Homo sapiens: one gene and its partners. The protein of the gene in region 1 interacts with the protein of each later gene in a pairwise test. Each region holds a gene or a part of one and is shown on either strand. Other genes may lie near its edges. The genes, in order: PDZD2, PTCHD1 and NRXN1.

Region 1 (7,114 bases):
CACAGGGACCTGGCTGTCCCGAGAGCGACCCAGGCTGTGTGGGGGGTGACCCTCCCGTCCAAAATGGCTTGAGAACTGGGCTGGCATGGAGTAGGTCCTGGTCGCTGGCCTTGGGGTGAAGTAGAGATGGTCCTCCCCCGAGGGGCCCCCTGGAATGCTGTTTCTGGGCACCCCTCGGGAGTCTGACATCAGGCTTGATTTTCCCTGGGAGTATTCTGCCTTTCTAATGGCTGTTTGAAGGGAGGAGGAGGAGGACGCCAGTTTTGCCATGCTGAATGATCGTGACATTTCCTGCTCTGCCTGGGAGGCATGAGATGGGAGTGAGGATGGATGACTTGTGGATGATTCTGCGACCTGGCGATAGAGCCTGATTTCACTCTTCTCCTGACAGTTGCCCTGGGCCAAGCACCCTCCCCGTCTGTCGCTTTCAGCTGGCTTGTTACCACATACAGTCTCTGACACTGCTTCAGCAGAAATCTCCACGATTTTCAGCTGGTTTGTTCTTTCGAGGCGATCGCTGGCCATTATGTTGCCTCCTTTTTCGCCAGTCGGCCTGGGTTGGGCTGTGTCTGCTGCCACATGGCTGGCCAGGCGCGGCTCACTCTGTCTGTTCCCTGCCACGGACATGCCGTTCCTAGACGCTGCCGGACTCACCGGCCCGGAGTCAGCACGGGGCGCCCTGCCCTCTGCTCTACACTTAGGAGATTTAGGGGTGGTTGGGCAACCTCTGTCGGGTTCAGAGAGGACAGCCATGTGGAACCTGCTCCACATGCCTTGCTCAGGAACAGGCTTGGGAGAGGTCAGGGGCGAGACAAATGTCCTGATGCTCGTGTCAGACACTGAGGGTTTCAGTGGCCCAGAGGTGGCAAGAGGTGGCTTGCTTTCCAGCACACACTGGGGGGACCTGGGGGCAGCTGTGGTGTTTCTGTCAGGGTCCTCGTGGTCGGCTACATGGAGCCGCTGTGACACTGCCTTAGAAAGTGTTTTGTGGGAGGTCTGGGGTGAGATCAAGGGTTTCCTGTGGTCCGTCCCCCCAGCCTTCACAGCATTCGCAGCAGGGGCCTCAGAGTTGACTTTGGCCTTGCCCTTGAGGCTGAGCCTCTTCAGCTTCGGACCACACTTTGCCTTCTGACCATTAGTCAGAAGCATTTCTGCCGGACTCTTCTTAGACAGGTCCTTATTTTCCAGGTTTGTTTTCGGCTGAGGAGGGCTATGAGGCACAGTAACGCCCTTTTTTTGGCTTGAACTCACCATCTGAATCTTGGAGTCGGGACTTCTGGCAGGCATTAGAGGTTGTTCCTTCTCGGTTTTGCTCCTCAAATGTGTGCCTTGGTTATGTTTATTTATTTCTTTAAACCAGGCCATGATGGGCCTCCTAGCGATCATTTTTGGTTTCTGTAGCAAGTCATCCAGGTCTTGACTTTCAGAGATGTGGAGGTTTTCCAAAACAGATTCTCCATTCTTAGGGACATCCACACTGAAGGAGGACAGACTGGCAGCTGCATTAATGCTTGTTTCGTATTGATTCAGGGTTTCGTCATCTAGCAGGTCATGTTCCAAGCCATTTACCATGTTGGGGGAGCTGAGAATGATGGGCGGACTGTGAAAATGCCTGGCTACTTTAGACAGCGGACTGTTTTCCATGGCTGAGCTAGCGCTGGTGACTTCTGTGGTTTCTTCTGCACACGAGGGCCTGTGGTTCTGTGAAGTGCTTATGTCCGCATGAGTTTCATGCTCCTGAGAGCTCATCTCCAAGAGTGATGATGGCTGGGAAGAGTCTGGGCCTGAAGTGTATGAGCCTGGCAAGCAGGCGGCCTTCTCACGGGGACTGGCCACCGACTCTCTCGGAGTGCTGTATTTTAATGACAGAACTTTGGCTGAGGCAGGACAGATGGCAGCCTGGGTGGGAAGATGAGCAGGACTCGAGGGTGGATTGGGGCAGCCACGTGTGGAACAAATCTCAATCTGTTCCTCTTCTGACTCCGAAGGATCTTCCTTGTGCAAAGACACACGGGAACGAGGAGGGGACCAGCCGTCCCTGGCAGAAGCTCGTGGGGCTTCAGTGAGTGACTCAGGGTCAGAAGAAGAATCCTCAGCATCGCCATACATGGATGACAGAGACGGCTCCGTGCTGTCACCCAGGCCTGATAGGGAGGTGCTGTCTTCATGAAAACTGCTAAAATTTCTAGAGTAGTTGCTCAGAAAGTTTTTGTTCACAGTAAAATGTTTGTCGGGATTAATTGAATCTAAAACCGAAGGCTGGGAGGCCCATTGTGGGTAGGCGGGGGCACCAGCAGCCCAGGCCCTCCTCGGGGAGGAGGTCTGGCCCCCCGGGACTGGTTCGGCACGGCAGGAGCTCCCACCTCCAGCCCCGGCTGGTGGGTGGCCCTGAGCACTGCCCTCCTGAGAGCCACTGTCCCCCGTCTGGGAAGACGGAGACCTTGCTGCAGAAGCATCCAGCTCCTTGATGAAGCTGTCAATGTCCGTCACAGGGCTCTCTCTACTCCCCCCTGGGCAGCAGTGCCCCGAGACATGGCCACATGCTTCTTTGGTGTTGTCAGTGGATGGCAGCATGGAGAGGCTGGCCTGCGGTGCCCTTGAGGACACAGAATCTGCTCCCTCCAGCAGGGAAGGCTCCTGGGAGCTTTCAGGTGCATGGATTCCTGTCATTTCCAGAGCCTTACTGTGGTTACCTGGAGCTCCCTGTCTCTGCTCCTGGGATGTGAGGGGGTCTCCTGGCAGGACAGCACCAGCTGGTGTCATTCCCTCTGCTCCAGGTCCCGCTCCCCTGAGGGCAGCCACCCTCCTGGTATTGTGGGGTGTGCTGGTTTCCGATGCTGATCGAGTCTTGCTGTAGTCAGGGGGAGCCGCTGCTTTCTCCCCCGGGGAGGGGCTGCCCTCATGGGGGAGCCTGACTGGAGACCTGGCCTTGCACTTGGTGACCCTGGGCGATGCAGGCTGGCTGGGATTCTCTGGCCGACTGACTTGCCCTGTGTCTACAGAGGTCTTGCTGGGGTCAGGATGAGCGGCCCCCTTCTTCCCTGGGGAAGAGATGAGGTCTGAGGAGCTGTCCAGTTCTACGTGGGGAACGTAAACAGAAGGTACATACACAGGAGAGGTTGTAGGGGAGATAAAAGGGATAATATAAGAAAGCAGCCCCTCAATTATTAAAAACTAGAAAATTATAAACAACCTCAAATATTTTTTTCTTTTTCAGAAAGCTGGGCGTGGTGGCGCATGCTTGTAATCCCAGCACTTTGGGAGGCGGAGGCGGGTGGATCACCTGAGGTCAGGAGTTCGAGACCAGCCTGGCCAACATGGTGAAACCCCATCTCTACTAAAAAAAAAAAAAAAAAAAAAAAAATTAGCTGGGCATGGGGGTGGGCACCTGTAATCCCAGCTACTTGGGAGGCTGAGGCAGGAGAATTGCTTGAACCTGGGAGGTGGAGGTTGCAGTGAGCCGAGAATGTGCCATTGCACTGCAGCCTGGGCAAAAAGAGCGAAACTCCGTCTCAGAAAACAACAACAACAACAACAACAACAAAACGGCGTTCTGTGGCCTAAATGGAGGCCCTTCTTGTCTTCCTGGTTTTCTCTCTAAAATTATAGAGTACCCACATCTAACAAATACCACCCTGCTTTAGACGCTCTAAGAGAACTCAGATTAGCCGGCAGAAGAAACATTTACATCTGCCCATTTTTCTCTCTTTTGGTATTTCTATGATGGCAGATGTTCCTACCACAAAGAAATGATACATTTGATGTGATGGATATGCTGATTACCCTGATTTAATCATTGCACACTTGGGTCTCTTTATGCCATTCACCCTCTGATGGCAAAGCCGCAAGCGTCAGGCTCTTGTTCTATTTGGTTCCCTACTCCTGCGTGGATGCAGCAGGGCCCTCATGGACCTCTCAGTCCCAGTATCTGGCCAGTGGTGTGTGGGTTTGGCTCACACTGGGGGATGTGAATGATGTACTTCAGTGTAAAACAGTCCAAGTGCCGAGCTCAAGAGGCTTCCTTTTTAGTGCAGGGGCTGAGGCTAACTAGGGAAAACATACAGAATACGAAAGCTGGGATACAGGTCTACACCGAGCTCTGGCTGTCTTGACGAATTCAGAGGAGTGGGAGAGTGAGAAGCCAGATTATCCCAGGAAGACTTGACAGAGGAGGTGGGGACATGAATGGGGCTGACAAGGGGAGTTTGGCCAGAGAGTGAGGAGGAGGAAGGTAAGGAAGACAATGGAAGAGTACCGTTAAAATGTCCATACTACCCAAAGTCATCTATAGATTCGGTACAATTCCTACCAAAATTCCAATGACATTTTTTACAGAAATAGAAAAAAAAAAAACAGTTGTAAAATGTGCATGGAACCACAAAGGACTCTGAATAGCCAAGGCAGTTTGAGTGTAAAAAAAACAAAAGACAAAACAAAACAACAACAACACAACAAAAACAGGGCTGGGCATGGTGGCTCACGCCTGTAATCCCAGCACTTTGGGAGGCCAAGGCGGGTGGATCACCTGAGGTCAAGAGTTCGAGACCAGCCTGGCCAACATGGTGAAATTCCCGTCTCTACTAAAAATACAAAAATTAGCTGAGTGTGGTGGCACACGCCTGTAATCCCAGCTACTTGTGAGGCTGAGGCAGGAGAATCGCTTGAACCTGGGAGGTGGAGTTGCAGTGAGCCAAGATCATGCCATTGTATTCCAGCCTGAGTAACAGAGCAAGACTCCGTCTCAAAAAAAAAAAATAATAATAAGGTATTGCATTTATTGAAATAGCTAGAAGAGAGAATTTGGGATGTTCCTACCACAAAGACATGATACATTTGATGTGATGGATATGCTAATTACCCTGATTTAATCATTGCACAATGTATATATGTACTGAAGTACCACTTTGTGCTCCATAAGTATGTACAATTATGTGTCAATTAAAAAAAAAAAAAGGCAGCTGGGCACGGTGGATCACGCCTGTAATCCCAGCACTTTGGGAGGCCAAGGCAGGTGGATCACTTGTCAGGAGTTTGAGACCAGCTTGGCCAACATGGTGAAACCCTATCTCTACGAAAAATACAAAAATTAACCAGGCATGGTGGCATGCACCTGTAATCCCAGCTACTTGGGAGGCTGAGGCACGAGATTCGCTTGAACCCAGGAGGTAGAGGTCAGTGAGCTGAGATTGCACCACTGCCTTCAAGCCTGGGCAACAGAGCAAGACTCTGTCTCAAAAAAAAAAAAAAAAAAAAAAAAAAGGCAACAGAATGAAAGCAGAGAAGCAAGAAAGAGCCTGAAATCTTGGAGGTGGCAGGGCAAGGGGATGTGTGCCAGTGGACAGTGGGAAGTCATCTAGGAGGTGGGTTCCAACAGCCACTCACTCCTGAAAGTGCCTGTTCATAAGGCCCTGCATAGTCTTGGGCTAATCTTCCACCTCAGACACACAGCATCTTGCAACAGGGAAAAAAAATCTGGCATCAGAAAGAACAAAGCTATTTTCTTAGGAACTATGGGTCTGAGGTTGGAGTGAAAAATGAAGTTCCATGAAAGCTCTTGGTTTGAGAATTAAGTCAAACCAACTCTTCCCCAAATATTATGTTCGTTCCACAGCTCTCACATAAAATCATCTTAATTGCATTTTTTTAACCTGCTGACCTTGCTATGTGAATAATTAAGAACTAATTATTAGGACTCAGCCCTGTGCTAAGAGGTTTTCCAATAATTAAGGAGTTAACACTGTGCTAAGAGTTTTGTACACATTTAATTTTCCTCCTAACACTGAGGTATGTCCTGTGACCATCTGCATTGGAAGGATGAGGACGGAGAAACAGCGTGGTTAAGCAATGTGTCTGAGGTCAGAGTTCACAGGTGGCAGAGCCAGCGGTCGCCCCAGGAAGCTGGCTCCACAGCCCATGCTACTGCCTAAACCCTGACTATGTGGCCTCTGTGTGGAGAGCCCTTGGCAATCAAAAGGTTGGATCGTCGAGATCCCCATGGAGACCGTACTAGCTACTAGCTTTCCAGGCCCACTGTGGAAGGCCAGGGGCCTGCCAAGACTCAAAGCCACGTGCTCTTCTCCTTCTCTGCTCAACCTTTTTTGAACTTCCCCTTAAGCATAATGTTCCTGCTTCTGGTGACAGCAAATATGGGCGGTAGTGCGGGTGGTGGTGGGGAGTAGCAATGACACAAAAGGAGGGGATTTAAACTCTGTTTTTAAATTTCATATTCAGGCCGTGGGCGGTGGCTCATGCCTGTAATCCCAGCACTTTGGGATGCTGAGGCCAGGCAGATCACTTGAGGTCAGGAGTTCGAAACCAGCCTGGCCAACATGGGGAAATCCCATCTCTACTAAAAATACAAAAATTAGCCAGGTGTGGTGGTGCACGTCTGTAATCCCAGCTGCTTGGGAGGCTGAGGCAGGAGAACTGCCTGAACCTGGGAGGCGGAGGTTGCAGTGAGCCGAGATCGAGCCACTGTACTCCATCCAGCCTGAGCGACAGAGCAAGAATCCGTCTCAAAAATAAACAAATTTCATATTCGCTCACTGAATAAACCTAAACAGGCAATTCATGTTAGCAATTTGACTTTATTGCAAAGTCTGTAACTTAAAAGGTCTTCATCTGAGGGAGACGAGGTTACACTGAGGCAGCCTTTGGTTGTCACCTTTCAAGACAACCTTTTCTCTGGAAACGTTCGAAATGCCCAATCATGGGAGGAAGGTTGACTCGTTACAGCACATCCGTGGGGTGGAAGGCCCAGCAGCCTCTCCAGGTGATGTCGGGTGTAGAAGAGCCTGCAGGATAGCAGTGCGGTTTCCTAGAGTAGGCTATGGGTGTGCTGACAGCAGAGTGGTCAGTGCGAGGGACAGCCTGCTAGGTCAGGCCCATGGGCTGAGGAGCAGTCTTACTGATGCCAGCAGGCTGCTCAAATATTATTTCGTGTGGATGTATGAGGTTTAAAAAGGTTGTTAGGTACTGGTGACTACCACAGTGGATTTTTTTTTTTTTTTTGGCAAAAAGACAAAAAAAGCACAGGACTATATATTTATTCACACCCATATACGCACAAGACTCAAATGATACAGACCAAAATATTAACAGAGGTTTTTCACTT
Region 2 (7,114 bases), on another chromosome or scaffold:
TGTGGACGAGATTTCCCAGGGAAACACTGTAGTCATGTAAATTCAGTAAGAGAGGAGAATGATCAACGTTCTCACCTAAATCACTGGAGAATCCCTCTTTGGCATGCTGTGCTGTGAGATGTGGTGAGGAGAGCCCTGAAACCAGAGCCCGCAGCCTCTCAGAACCTTTAATTCAAAAGGCACTTCCCTGGGCAGGAAGTGAAGGCTTTTTTTGTGTGCAAAGCCCCATCAGGCATGAAGAGTAGGTTCTGAGCCCAGAGGAACCACGTTGGTGTGCTGGAATGCAATGCACCCATCCCCATCCGCAGCTCTGCCTGCCTAAGAACTTTCTGCAGGTAGAGGAGCTGCATGCTCAGCAGTAGGTTGAATCCAATTGTCTGTAATGACTCAGATGGAGTCATTAAAGACCAACAAATTGGCAATATGAGTATTGAATGTAGCTTGAGCACCCATTATTGCCTGTTGGATCAAAGAAAAAAGTGGCTACATGTGTATTACTCAACAGGCAATAATGGCTTTGAAAGAGCTGGCACATGTGAGGAAATAGCAGTCATTTTCAAAGTAAATAGTAATAATGATAACACACTTTACAGAAGGCTATGGTTACACAGTGCCTTCACATACTTTATCTCATTCTATCTTTACCTTAAGTGGGTGAAAGAGATGCTATTACACCCAGTGCAAATAAGGAGCGTGTTTCTCAGGGAGGTTAGGTGACTTGCCCAAAGATACATACTTAGGAGAACTGGAACTTGAACTTGGCTTTCCTGATTCTAAATCCAGTTTTCTGTTTACAACAGTTAAATTTGAGCCTTGCTACTCCAAGTGTGTTCTGCTGATCTGTAGCATCAGCATCACCTCAGATCTTGTTAGAAATGCAGACTTGCAGTTCCCACCCCAGACCCTTTGAATCAGTCTGTATTTTAGCAAGATGCCTAGGTGACGTGTGTGCATGTTAGAAAGTCTGAGAGCAATCAAACAATCTTTACTCAGTAGGACTACTTGCCTATACCACAAGACCAAAAACAAAATCCAACAACTCAAACCTCATACAATTAAGGTATAAATATCACAAAATGTTCTTGAGCATTTATAATGACAGCTCTATAGCAGAGATGCATTATTTTTTCTTGAGACAATTAGAAAGAATTGACAAAGCCATGGTATTAGTGACAGCAGGAGAGCCTCATGGAGGAATGGGTAAAGGAATCTTTATCTTCCACGCTGAAAAATTAGCAGTTTTAGTGTTTCCATTAAACTCACAGAAATATGCTGATTTTGTACCAGTATCATTTTCTTTTAAGTTTGCCTCTTAGAACAATACTTTCTGTTCCTCTGGGCTAACTTTTAAGAAGAGTGGGACTAAGCAACATCAGAATGGTGATCTCCTGAACACTGGTGCTATGGTCAGGAAAACCACTTGTCCTTGATGTTTTCTTTTAAGTGTGTTTCCTATTTACATTTGAATATGGGTGTGGCCAATGTTTTGAGACTTTTCTTTAAGTAAATAAGGGAATGTGTAGTGTGGGGACTTGGGTTCCAGGGTGCTCACTGGGAACTGCACAGGGATCCACCCTCCCACATGGAAATGCACCACTGATTGGGGACTGAGGTCAAGTTCATACCCTCCCAAACTGTACTTGGACCAGAGAAGGTTGTCAGATATTTGGTTTTCCAAGAATTTCTCCTCATATAAATGGCAGCAGATCTGGAAACAGAATGGATGCTTATTGCTTATCAACAAGTTTGAAACCAAGATTTGTCAAAGATGAAAAATGAATATAGAGCACAAGAAATCACATGGTCATGCTACCAGGCAAAATTATATTTGACCAAAATAAATCAATAGGGAGGCAGAGCACATTTTCCATCTTACAAGCTATAAACCAGTAACAATTTATTAAGCACCTGCTGCAAACTCCACATTATGCTAGGCTCTAGGAGAGATCTGGCAGTGTCAGACATTGTTCCTGCCCCTGAAGAGTTCATTACCTCTCTTAAGAGAAACGATCACATGACAATATAGCAAATTACATAAGAGTCTACAGCTCTGCATTAAAGAATGTGTATAAGAATGAAAGCCCAATAGATTTAAGGGAGAGAAGAAGCCATGAATCTGAGAAAGCCTCATAAAGTAGAAGGCATGTGAACTGGTCCTTAAAGAGAGGAGGGAGGGCACTTTTAGGGAGAACAACAAAAGTAGATGTGTGAAGATGGGGGCCTGCAGACTTCTGTATTCATAAAGGTGAGAATGAATATGTGCCTCTCAAATGTAGAGGTCTGGCATCTAAAACCACACATCCTGTTGGTGTCTAGGCCCTGTTTGGAGTCATCTTTACCAGCATCCACTGGCACTTGTCAAACTTGGGAATAACTAAATAGCTATGCTGGATGATTCTTAACTGTAAGCTTCATGGAGACAGGGTCATAGCCATCTTGTTGAGTAAAGGGATGAATATCCATTCCCTAGAAACGGGGCACTAAATCTCTCGATGTATAACTCTAGATGAATATAAGACCCTTAGGGCAGATGCTCTCAGGGTCCCACCCATATAGTCTCAGCTCACACTCACCTCTCCATGCTAAGGTTGCTTGCCACAAACACCTGTAGCTCTGTACCCAATTCTTTTAAAAAAAAAAAAAAAAAAAAAATATATATATATATATATATATATATATATATATATATATATATAGGGAGAAACACAGCATATGAAAATGCCAGAAATTTAATGCTTCTAAATGTAGTTGAATCAGCCGATGATGGCTGGAGTTGGGGAGAAAATATTCAGCTTCTTTATCCACAACTGAGATTTCTCCAACACATTCTACAGTGTCTCCCAGAGTTCCCTAGTGAGACTGAGCCCCAGTTGCCCACAGTAGACACTTGCTTAATAATACTCTCTTGATTGGCTTCCTGCTACTCACTGTTTTACTTCCCCACTCCCCTATCAGCCTTTTCTGATATCACCTCCCAAGATAACCGACTGCACTTACATAAATCATCTTAACTGTACTTGAAGCCTATGAATTAAACCTAAAGTGGAAGACCTAACAATGGGGATCTTTCAAAATAGCAGAAACAATATTCTCAAGAGGATTTCTTAGAGAGCAAGAAGATAAAAATAGCTTTTTCTAGTTCCTCACTGCCTCCTTTTGTTCAAAATATGAATTCAGAAGTTGCAAGCACAACATATTATTCAGGGCTTCCCGTAAGAAATAACAACTGGTGTTGATTTTCTTTTTTTCCTTTTCTTGTCTTTTAAAGGTTAGCGATTACTCACCTCCCCTGCTGGTCATTAAATCAGTCTGGCAGGATTCCTCGGTAGTTCTGTGGCCTTCCGGGTATGTGGCGGAGACACAGGCAGTGCTGCAGACAGGCCTGCTTGCTGTGATGTGCTATCAAGCAGGTGACTTCAAAGGTCTGCTTTAAGCCTATCTCAAGTATCACTTGGGGCTCACACTGAGCCCCGAAATCAGGTACCAGATGGCACATCCCACAAAGTCAAAGTTGATCAGCTCACCAGCATCTCACATTTCCCTGGCTTTTGTGCCAAGGGACTGGAAACACTCAGGTAGAAAACAAATAACTTCTGTTAGCTTACTTCTCCTTCTCGTATTTTTAAGGAGTCATCAGTTCAATGCTTGACTGTCCTGTGAGCTTTATAGGTCTGGTGAATCCTGAGAGGCTCAGTTTTTGTGGTCATTTAAAATAGAATCATCCTTTCCTAACTCTAATATGGCATCTATCAAGATGCCATGAGTCATTACAAAGGTGGGCTTCCTCTCCCACTAAGGCTTTATATCTAAATTTCAGTTTAATCAAAGTTTGTCTCAAATGTGTACCTAAATGGAGAATTAAAAGACTGCTCCCCAAATCTAAATGAGACAAGTGGGCATTTTACATACTAATCGCAAAAATCAAATGTACTTAAAAGTCAGACAACCCTAGGATGAGACTGTGCTTAGATTATTCGGATACACTACCTACGAAATGAAAGGAGAATGAAAACCGATCTCAGTCTCTCCTTAATTTTCCCCTAGTACAAAAATAAAGAGTAAAAGTCAATTGACTGACCCAGCAAATACACAAATGCTGCCCTTTCAGGCCCAGGCTCAATCTTTTCTAAGAGTATCTGCCACTTGGATAACTCACCAGAAGAGACTGGACTGCCCAAGGCTTCATAGCACCTGTCACCAAACAAAGCACCCTGAGATGCTAAGAGAAGATTCTAGCATCAGCCTCTGTGGAGATGACCTTTAAGGTGCCTTCTAAACCGAAGGTTCTTTGATTCCGTGTTTCTTTGATACAAGCTCTTCTCTTGTCATTTTATACTTGGAAAAGCAGAGAGACTGGAATAGGCAACAAAGCACTGCCTCCTGCCTCCTCAGGTCGCTGCTCACAGTGGGGTCTTACACACTGTCAGAAGAAGCCCGACCTAAGTGGGCGACTGCTGCTGACTGATGCTTAAGGCATGCCAATAATGGGCACTCTAGTAATGGACAAGTCTCAAAGGCCAGTGTCAACTTAGCCCCTTCGTCATTCAAGCAGTTATACTGCATTCAGTTTCTTGGGCTCCTCTACAGCAGGTGGGATTTAGACCTGAAGGGACAGAGCCATCGAAGAGAGCAAGATAACTGCATTTTGGGGACGATTACACTGGAAAATCTGGTCTCTGCTCAACTGCCCAAGAGAGCATCACCTCAGAGGTCATAATAGTTGTCCCCAGAGTTCTATGAACTTCTCTTTGGCATTTTTTCATTTTACATAATCAAAGTAGCAAAAAAAGAATCTTTATAAAACAAAAGAAACATGCAAAGCAGAGAGTTTCTCCACCTTGGCACTATTAACATTTGGGGCTGGGTAATTTTGTTGTTGTGGGGGCTACGCTGTGCCTCTACCCACTAGATGCCAGTAGCACATGCCTCTTCCCCAAGTTGTGACAACCAAAAATGTCTCCAGCCATTGCCAGATGTCCCCTGGGTGGGTGCACAGTCAGCCCCGGTTGAGAACTACTGCCTTACAGATTCACAGTATTAACTTCTTGAAAGTGCTCTAGTAATGACATTTTAGAATACAACATAGGAACTTTGAATGTACAGATAGCAAATCTCTCGGGCTTCGCGAGCCACAATTTCTGCTATATAGCTTTCTTGGTTTTTGTTTTGTTGTGTTTATAATCTTTTAAAACTGTAAAAACTCAGTCTACGTTAAAAACTAGGCTGAAATTTGCTGATCCTTAGATTGTGGAGGAAGAAATGATGGTGATTCCCATAGTGATTGCAAGTGTTGAGACAGCATTTGGAAAAACTATGATCTTGATCTAGCTACCCAGTCTTTGTGACCCCGAGCTAGCAGTTATGCTGCCCTTCTTGGAAAGCCTGAAGTAAATAACTTAAGGTTAGATTTTATTAACCTTGTTTGCAACTTAATTCTATTTAATGTATTTAAACATAAAAGCTTTAAGTAAAACAGAAACTTGATATTTGAGCGAAATGAGATCTCCTAGTAAATGGAAGAATGTTTGCTATGTGAGGATGCGTCCTTCCCGTGGTTTGGAATAAAACATTCTGAGTTTCCCCTGAAGAAGAGGACTTTGTACAAAGGCAATTCCCCTACCCAATTTTGAAACTGAAATACGCTTTGATATGACTACGGGGGTTATCAAGGAGGGAAGAATGATATCTTGCAAACAAAGAATCCTAGTAACTGTCTGTAAAGTTGTAAAAATAAAAATTTCACTATGTAAATACATTTCAAATTCGTTTTTATGGAATTTTCTTTAACTCATCACATAAATGTCTGAGTAAACTAGGGAGGGTCTATTCAACAAGTATTTATTGAGTAGCTATTATGTGCCAGGGAGTGTGTAAGGCACTAAAGTTCAGTCAACCTGGACCCTGCCAATGAGCAGCACTCAATCAGGAAGCAGCTACATTCAATCATCCAGAGATTTTTTTTCCAAAAAAATCTTCTTTCTATCCTTGTATATTGTTAATTATAAATATCTTATGCTTTACTTTGGGTATTTGGAGTTTCTGTATGTGGATTTTAATTGACACTAGACAGAATCAGTCAAGAAAAATATTCTTATGATCCAATTACCACTATTAGAACAACTGGATGGGATGGGATATAAAACTTTGGTCAACTGTACTTCATTTGGATAACAAAAATGTACATTTTAAATCATTCCAGTAGTGTATCATATGAAAGTAAATTACAATGAAAAGCACACTGGGCTTGGAGTCCAAAACCCTGGGTCCAGTCCAGTCCTGGTTCTAGCCTTGTATTTTTTCCCATGGACAAGTCAGTTAACTTCTAAGAAGTAGTTTTCTCATATGTAAAATGGGATATAGCATTTTTCCCAATTTACTGTATTTAAACATACTGTATATTTCTAACCTATAAAGTCCTATAAAGATGATGTCATTATCATAAGTACTGGGCTGTACTGATTCTTCACTTTAAATAGATGATTCCGGAATAAATCAAGAATTGTTTTGTTAACAGCCTGGATCAATTATCAAAGGGACCTACTTACACTTCATTTTAGGTGATCGCAACGAAACGTATCTATAAAAGCTTGTGAGGCCCTCCTTTGAAATTTGCTTTGAGATGAACATCATGGATCTTCTGTTAAAAGATATAATCAGCTAAATTTAATTTTCTAGGAAAAGGAAGATGTTTGAAGAGCAGCATGTATGTAAAGAGGTTCAGAAATTACTGCATGAGCCCTTATCAGCACCACCAGGTCCTACCCACTTTTGCCTAATAATGCATCGTTGCCCTGTAGCCTTCAGGGGAAACCAACGCTGGGGGGAGTCATGCCTCACAGTGTGGGGTCAACTTCTAAGCTACAGTGGTCAGAGTATGGTAATCATATCACTTGCGCATATTCGAGAAAGCTCCTCCAAACCAGATCAGCTGGATTTTTGAAATACAGATATTTTTCTGTAATACTCTCAATTACATTTAAAAACGTCAACCTGGCTTTTCGTTTTCTGTCATCACTCCCTCCCAGTCTATTTTTTTTTTGTCAGCAAATAGTGGGACCAATATCCCAAGAAGGATCTCCTTCACTGCACAGGTACAATCCCAAAACATTAAGAG
Region 3 (7,114 bases), on another chromosome or scaffold:
ATAGTGCTACCATTCAACATTTCTTTCACCTCTGAGTCCTCATCTGAGCTAATGCCAAAATGTCTTGGCTTAAATTTCCATGTTAGTTAACTCTAATGGAATAGAAAATCTCTTCTTGCATTATACACAACTCAACACCGAGATGGTGTCTCAGATTCTTCGTAAGTGCTCTACAGATCAAGAAAACACTCATCTATTTGCAAGCAATATTCAAGGTCAATTTAAACAGTGTTTCTAGCAGATAATTTTTTATGCAAAGAAGCAGGGCTCTCACTTAGGTTAGATCTATGAATAGGGGCCACTGTTTGTGGCTTATATTCGTTCCTTAAGCTGTCATGCTTTTAAAGAATAACTTAATAAAAAGCAGATATTTGACTATATAAAAACATACATATAATTATTTTTTCAAATGTTATTTGCTTCAACATGTTAAGCTTTAAATGAAACTCAAGGACACTCAAATAAAGTGACTTTTGTCAAAGCCTTTTCCTGTAATAACGTATCTGGATGATGCAAGATGCATTCTCTTGTGATGTCCAAGTGATTGATAAATCAATTTGTGTGAAATACACAAGAACTATTTGGACTTTGTTGTTTTCTTAAATGAGGTGAATAAGAATTTCTGTTTTCTGACTAGGAAATAAAGTATGCTAGGCCTATTGTAGATGCTTCAGTGTGCCAAATATGGTATTAAGTTTGGTGATCATAAATTATTAATCTGGAATAAGAGGTTGAATGTATTTTGAAAACTTAAACCTGTTTCACCTGAACATGTTTAACTAGTTAATAAGAAACATCAAAAAGACAAAACCCTGAGGTCATTGGTCATTTTTTGTAAAGCTATTATATGCTGTTTAAATTGGTTGTTCGGGTCTGTCTATAACATAAGTTTAATAACCTAGCTCAAATGCAGATTTCTAATTTTCAATTAACATAGGAATAATTTTGTTTGCTAAAATAAAATAAATGAATGAATGACAAGTCTGAAACATGAAATGTTCTAGGTAGAACTTTTTAAAATTCCAAATTTCAAAAAATCATGTGGCAACTGTATAGCTCAATCTTTAAGTATTAACTTTTAACCTTTGACCTTACAGATTTTAACCAATGAAATGTCTCTTTAAACTTTAAAGGAAACAATGATAACGAGCGCCTGGCGATTGCTAGACAGCGAATTCCATATCGACTTGGTCGAGTAGTTGATGAATGGCTACTCGACAAAGGTAAAAAACATTGATTAAAACTTCAAATAAAAAAATAATTTGAACATAACCAAGTAGTACTTCATTGTAACACTAATAAACATAAAAAATAAATTTTCCGTAAAACTAAATTAAAAACAACTTTAAAACAGTAAAATGTAGATAGTAATATTTGCATACCTTGTATAATAATTTCTATACATTTTTAGACGTACCAGCTGTTTAATAATCTTACCCAGTTAACTTAAGGTTAAAGGGACTGTTAAATATAATCCACTAACTCAATCTATGAGGGTACTCACAGCAAGCATTAACCCAAAATGATAAATCATTCATAGACTATATTACATGTTCCAGCCTCTAAATTATTAACTAAAATATATGTAGTTCTGATATCTTTATTATGGTCCTGAAAAAAACAAAAACTCTTTGTTTAAACTCTAGGAATCTTAAATAGTGGGCAATATGAATTGCCAGTCATAATGAAGTCCCTTTAACATTTGCAACCTTCTAAGAGGATTTGGGAACAAGCCCATATTAAAACTGAACTTAAAGTTGTGTGCATGCTTTTATGAGCAGAGAGCAATCTGCTAAAACTGGATACTCAATTTGATGATAATGGTACTGTTATTAAGGATTGCTGTTTGATGGAAATGTGCCATAATTTCTCCATCGGTTTGTGTATCATTCCTGAAGCCGCTTTTTACATCTGAAGCTATTTTTTTTTTTCATTTTGTTTTGTTTTGATAGACTTGCTGAAAGCCAATCAGAAAAATATTTTTGGAATTTTTTTGTCTCTGACATGCTCAGTGTAAACCATGAATTTCTTTTCAGTGTGATTGCCGGAAAAATAGAATAATTCAAATAACAATGAATAATTGCCTTCAAAAAATAAACAGCACTAAAGAATAACATATAGATATATGTGGACATTATGTGAATTATGAAATTTTTACCATAAAATTTAAATTAGATTTCAGCTGCTATGTATTAGTTTCTGTCAGTGGTAATTTCAGAATGACAAATACTTGAAATGTTGTCTTACATTTTTAAAATTTAACAATTTAGACTTTAGACACCAACAATATAAGATCTTGATGTAAAAGGGAAAAGGGATCCACTAAAAACTGATTTGTAATACATATCTTTGATTGGTCTTTTAGCAAAAGCACTACATTTATAATAAGTTGAGAATTTACAAGTATTTGCCAATAATTATGCATTTCATGGACACCTCATTTATAAGCAATGAATTATGAGTCAAATGCCTCTCTTATAGTTTATTGCTCTCATTATTCACCCCATAAAAGATCTGTTTTATCATCCATTGTAGATATAGAGTTCACAATCAACATTTTTGCATGTATGTAATATTATTTTTACAGGGCGTCAGCTCACAATCTTCAATAGCCAAGCAACCATAATAATTGGCGGGAAAGAGCAGGGCCAGCCCTTCCAGGGCCAGCTCTCTGGGCTGTACTACAATGGCTTGAAAGTTCTGAATATGGCAGCCGAAAACGATGCCAACATCGCCATAGTGGGAAATGTGAGACTGGTTGGTGAAGTGCCTTCCTCTATGACAACTGAGTCAACAGCCACTGCCATGCAATCAGAGATGTCCACATCAATTATGGAGACTACCACGACCCTGGCTACTAGCACAGCCAGAAGAGGAAAGCCCCCGACAAAAGAACCCATTAGCCAGGTGAGCCTGTGGATTTTATTCCTTCATTTTCATCCTATATTATTTATGATAGTGGGCTTTTCTGCATATGCGTCTTTTCTAAATTGGAACATTTTTCTGATCTTAGGCACTACAGCTTCCTTTGAAACTAGCTTAACATAATGCATTCCGTTTGAATATGAAATGTGTGTATGTTGTTCATTAGAGGTTTGTGGACTTTTACAAAAGATTTTGTTTTGGTTTGTTAGATGCTAAATGATAGTCTTGATTCCATAACCCTCCTCTGGCCCAAGCTGAGTAGATCGTCTGCTAATTACATAGGATTTTCACTTTTTAGTTTAAATGAACAAGTTAATGAAATATTTGAAAACCTTGTCTGTTTAAGCTCAGCACTTCAAAATAAAATCAAGGCAAATTTAATCTTAAAAGAGATATTTTAATAGTACAATACTTCTATAGTATTTTGAAGTTTAAAGTTTTGAATTGATAGCCAGCCATGTGGCTTTCTTGGTGAATGATGGGTATACTCTTTCACTATTTATTTAAAAATAAAAAAACATTCTATTGGTTTATCTGAGCACACAAACCCAAAATATGAGGTATTTTGTGTATGTGATTAATTGCCCTCACCTACAATTAACTCTAATTAGCTTATTTCAATCTTGTGCCTAAAATTTTTGAAGAATATGATTTTTAAATGTGGCATTTGCACAACTTGGAAGTATGTTAATTCAATCAGGACATAATTATTGATTGCCTACTACATTTCAGGCACTGGTTTGAATATTGGTGTTCCATCAGTGAAGAACACAGGGAAAAAAAAACCTTATTCGAAATGCTGTTAGATGCTGTTCAAATGCCATTAGATTCCTGTTGGTATTTGCAGCCTTTGTATGTATCCAGTTGTTAATTTTTTCAGAATTGTGTATTATCCTTGGTCCAAAATTAATTGTTTCGTTTTGTTCTGTTTTACTGATAGTGAGTATATTCAGTAGGTGCCATTTAAAGCTTTTCCAAATACACGATCCCTACTTTTCCAGAAAAATGCATTCTGAAGAAGCAAGAATGATAATTATATTTAAATTTGCTTTTACTTCTTGCATTTGAAACAGACCTGCATCCAGTTTGGAAGGAAAATAATAGAAGGCAAATTCTGTTTGTATCAGCACCCCAAATATGAATTAACATGTTTCCCAGAAAATGAAGAAAATTGACTCTGATTTTTACTTTGAATGGAAAAGGGTGAGAGGAACAGAATAGATGAAGAGAAAATGTCCTAGAAGAGGGATGGGCAAAAAATACAAAAAATGCAAATTAAATGTAGTGTTGGATATATTGTACCTACATGTGCACTTATTTTCATTTTTCTCTCTTTTCTTTTCGTTTCCTATTTGCATGTGGCTACAAAATAAAATGGGATGTCTTATAGGGTGTTCACAAATATATATTTATTGATCACTGTCTACATGTGCCAGATACTTTTCTAGGCATGAGGATATATTGGTAACAGCAAACGAAACCCCTGCCCTCAAAGAATATACATTTTAGTAGGACTGTTTGCCTGCAATGTGATCCTTTTGTTGATTTTCTCTCGTTAGGATTTATAAGGTTGCCAATAACATCATAGCACTTAGTTCCTTGGATAAAGACTTGTGACTTTAGAAAGATTTATGTTTGCCCAATAGCTCCATTTAACATTCTTTGCTAATGTTTCATTAATGATTTGTTACTGCTGTAGATTTATGGTTCACTTACTGATAAGCAAGTTATTACAGTAAATCTGATACAGGAAAAATGAAACAAATAAATTGATAGACTTTCCTTTATCTAAAATAATTCACAAGAGGACATTCAGAGTTAGGAATGCTTTTATGAATATAATTTGAAATAATCAGGTATTTTTCTTAGTAGTCTTGTTTTATCATTAATGAGATTACAGTTGCCAAATCTCCTATATAAACCAGGTGTGTCCCAAAAGAAGAAAATATTATCAGCATTGGTTTTATGTATTTTGTCAATTAGTAACATATATTAAGAAATATTATTTTTAAGTACAAAACAGCTGTTTCATTTGAAAGCTAAATACGTAGAAATGCAGAAATAAAGATTTATGCATTTTATAATATTAAAATGCAGAAGGTAAAGAGTTAACTGCTCCTTAATTGCCAATGAAAAGAGCCTCTTTTATTATAAGCTATTACATGTTTGAAGACAGCAGCAGTTTATAGATGTAAATGATCTAATTAATTAGTGAATACTTGGTTCATTTGAGGAGATATTGACTTAAATAAAAGATTATTAGGTTCATTTAAAAATAGATATTTAAAATTGTTAGCTTTGTAATAAACCAGTGACAGTAATTAAAGAATTTGACTTAATATGTTACAAGTATTCAGTAGTAGCAACAGTATTTTAAAGTTGGGCTAATAGGTTTTAAAAGTCTCTTAAGTAGTGAGATATATATATGAATACAGATAACAACACATGTATGTATGGGGAAAAAACATTAGGGAAGAAAGCAATTTATTTATATTTGAGTGACAGAATAATTTGTTGAAAATTTTCCATAATTCGTAATTGACTTTTCAATTGTCCTCTAAATACAGTAATATTTAAACCAGGAAGTTTAAATATGAGATAAATTTCTAATGTTAATTTCGAAACTGTAAACTTTGACCTATTTTTACAGGTTGGATGAAGCATCTTCCTTTAAATGTTGTCTATAGTGGCCATATCCGCCTGCTTTTATCAACTGTCTTACTAAATTGTGTATCAGAAAGGGTCATTTCATTTTTCAAAAGCCACACTGGACTGTTTTCTCAATCAAAGTGCATTTTTCTCAGTGATAACACTGAGCCACTTAAGCTACAATGGCAATGTACCTTGGGGTGATTGCATGTTTTAAAACTATGGAAACAGATTTTTGGTCAGGCAGAATTAAATTGGACTCATTTCAAATAGATGAGATGAGGTTTGTTCAGCCATCCTGCAGGGATAGTAATAGGGAAGAAATGTATTTCAGTTTTCACAGACTCAGAGAATATAGTAGTGTTCATCAAAATATCCTCCATAAAGTCCTGTTTATATTCCTACTTAAAGTAAATATCCTTTTAAAAGTAAAAAAAAAAAAAAGAAGTTTTGCTTTGAATGATAATCAATTTTCAGCCCAATGTTTACTTTAGGAAGATGTGATTTATATCAAGAAATAATAGGGACATTTACCAAAACTTCTGATCGAATTGTTCCTTTTTAATGTGAATATAACAATATTGATAGTACTTTTTATGTGGATTACATAAAATTTATAAAATTTATAAAATTCATTTTACTTGGAATATTTAATTTTTAAATGTTTCCATAAGGCCTCCTGATTTTATGAAACTTTCCAGAAGGCTAATCTCAGAAAGCAAATATTCACAAAAACTATTGGTGGTATAAAGTTCTTTGAGATTCTGAGAGCTTCTTGGCATGTGGCAGGAGTATCATGCAAGTTTTTTGGCTGCTAAATGTTCCCCCTCTTCTAATTAAACTTGCAATGTCTTATGAGATGAGTACATGTAAGCCAACATGAAGAGGACAACACTTCCTTCCTTTGCCTGTCCACAAAGAAAGGAAAATTGAACTGTGCTGTTTCTTTTACGATCAAGCTTGTGACATCGTTTCTGGAATGTTCTTTATAGCACATTTTACGATCTTTTTGTTCTTTCCTTCGAGAATATTTTACAAGCTACATACATACTATAGAGAATACATACATACTGTAGAGAGATTGTAGTATAATGGAAAGAGCATGATGAATGAGGAGACCTGGTTTCCACTTTCAACACAACCACCTATCTCGTCATGTGACTTGGACAACTTGGGTCACATCATTGTACTTTGGCCTTGCTGCCTCTGTAAAATAAGTAGGTTGAACTAGGAAACTCTTAAGTTGTACTCAGCTCTAAGATTTCTTTGATTCTAGTGATGATGCTCTTAATTAGGTCTTCTCATGATTATTTACCAAAACATAGATTTCACCTCTGTCTTCCATCATGTGGCCATGCAGCCCAGTTGGCCTGGATAGTACCTGTGCATACCTGATGTTCAGTGTAATTATTAATAGTATATTTTTGACTCTCAAAAGTATGCCATTTGGTCTATAAATTATATTATACTCTACTTTTACAGCATATCCAAAATTTACCTTTGCAAGAAAAGCATACTTCATAAGAATAATACATATTAT

Evidence for each region.
Region 2: the proteins of PDZD2 (region 1) and PTCHD1 interact in a two-hybrid assay, tested with the Homo sapiens proteins (one study listed by BioGRID and IntAct).
Region 3: the proteins of PDZD2 (region 1) and NRXN1 interact in a two-hybrid assay, tested with the Homo sapiens proteins (one study listed by BioGRID).

What each region holds. Positions count from the first base shown.
Region 1 is NC_000005.10:32,083,094-32,090,207, reverse strand, and holds part of PDZD2 (PDZ domain-containing protein 2), read right to left. Parts: intron 3,078-7,114; coding exon 1-3,077.
Region 2 is NC_000023.11:23,337,849-23,344,962, reverse strand, and holds part of PTCHD1 (patched domain-containing protein 1), read right to left. Parts: intron 1-7,114. UniProt on the Homo sapiens protein: Required for the development and function of the thalamic reticular nucleus (TRN), a part of the thalamus that is critical for thalamocortical transmission, generation of sleep rhythms, sensorimotor processing and attention. Can bind cholesterol in vitro.
Region 3 is NC_000002.12:50,049,064-50,056,177, reverse strand, and holds part of NRXN1 (neurexin-1 isoform alpha4 precursor), read left to right. Parts: intron 1-1,133; coding exon 1,134-1,223; intron 1,224-2,587; coding exon 2,588-2,907; intron 2,908-7,114.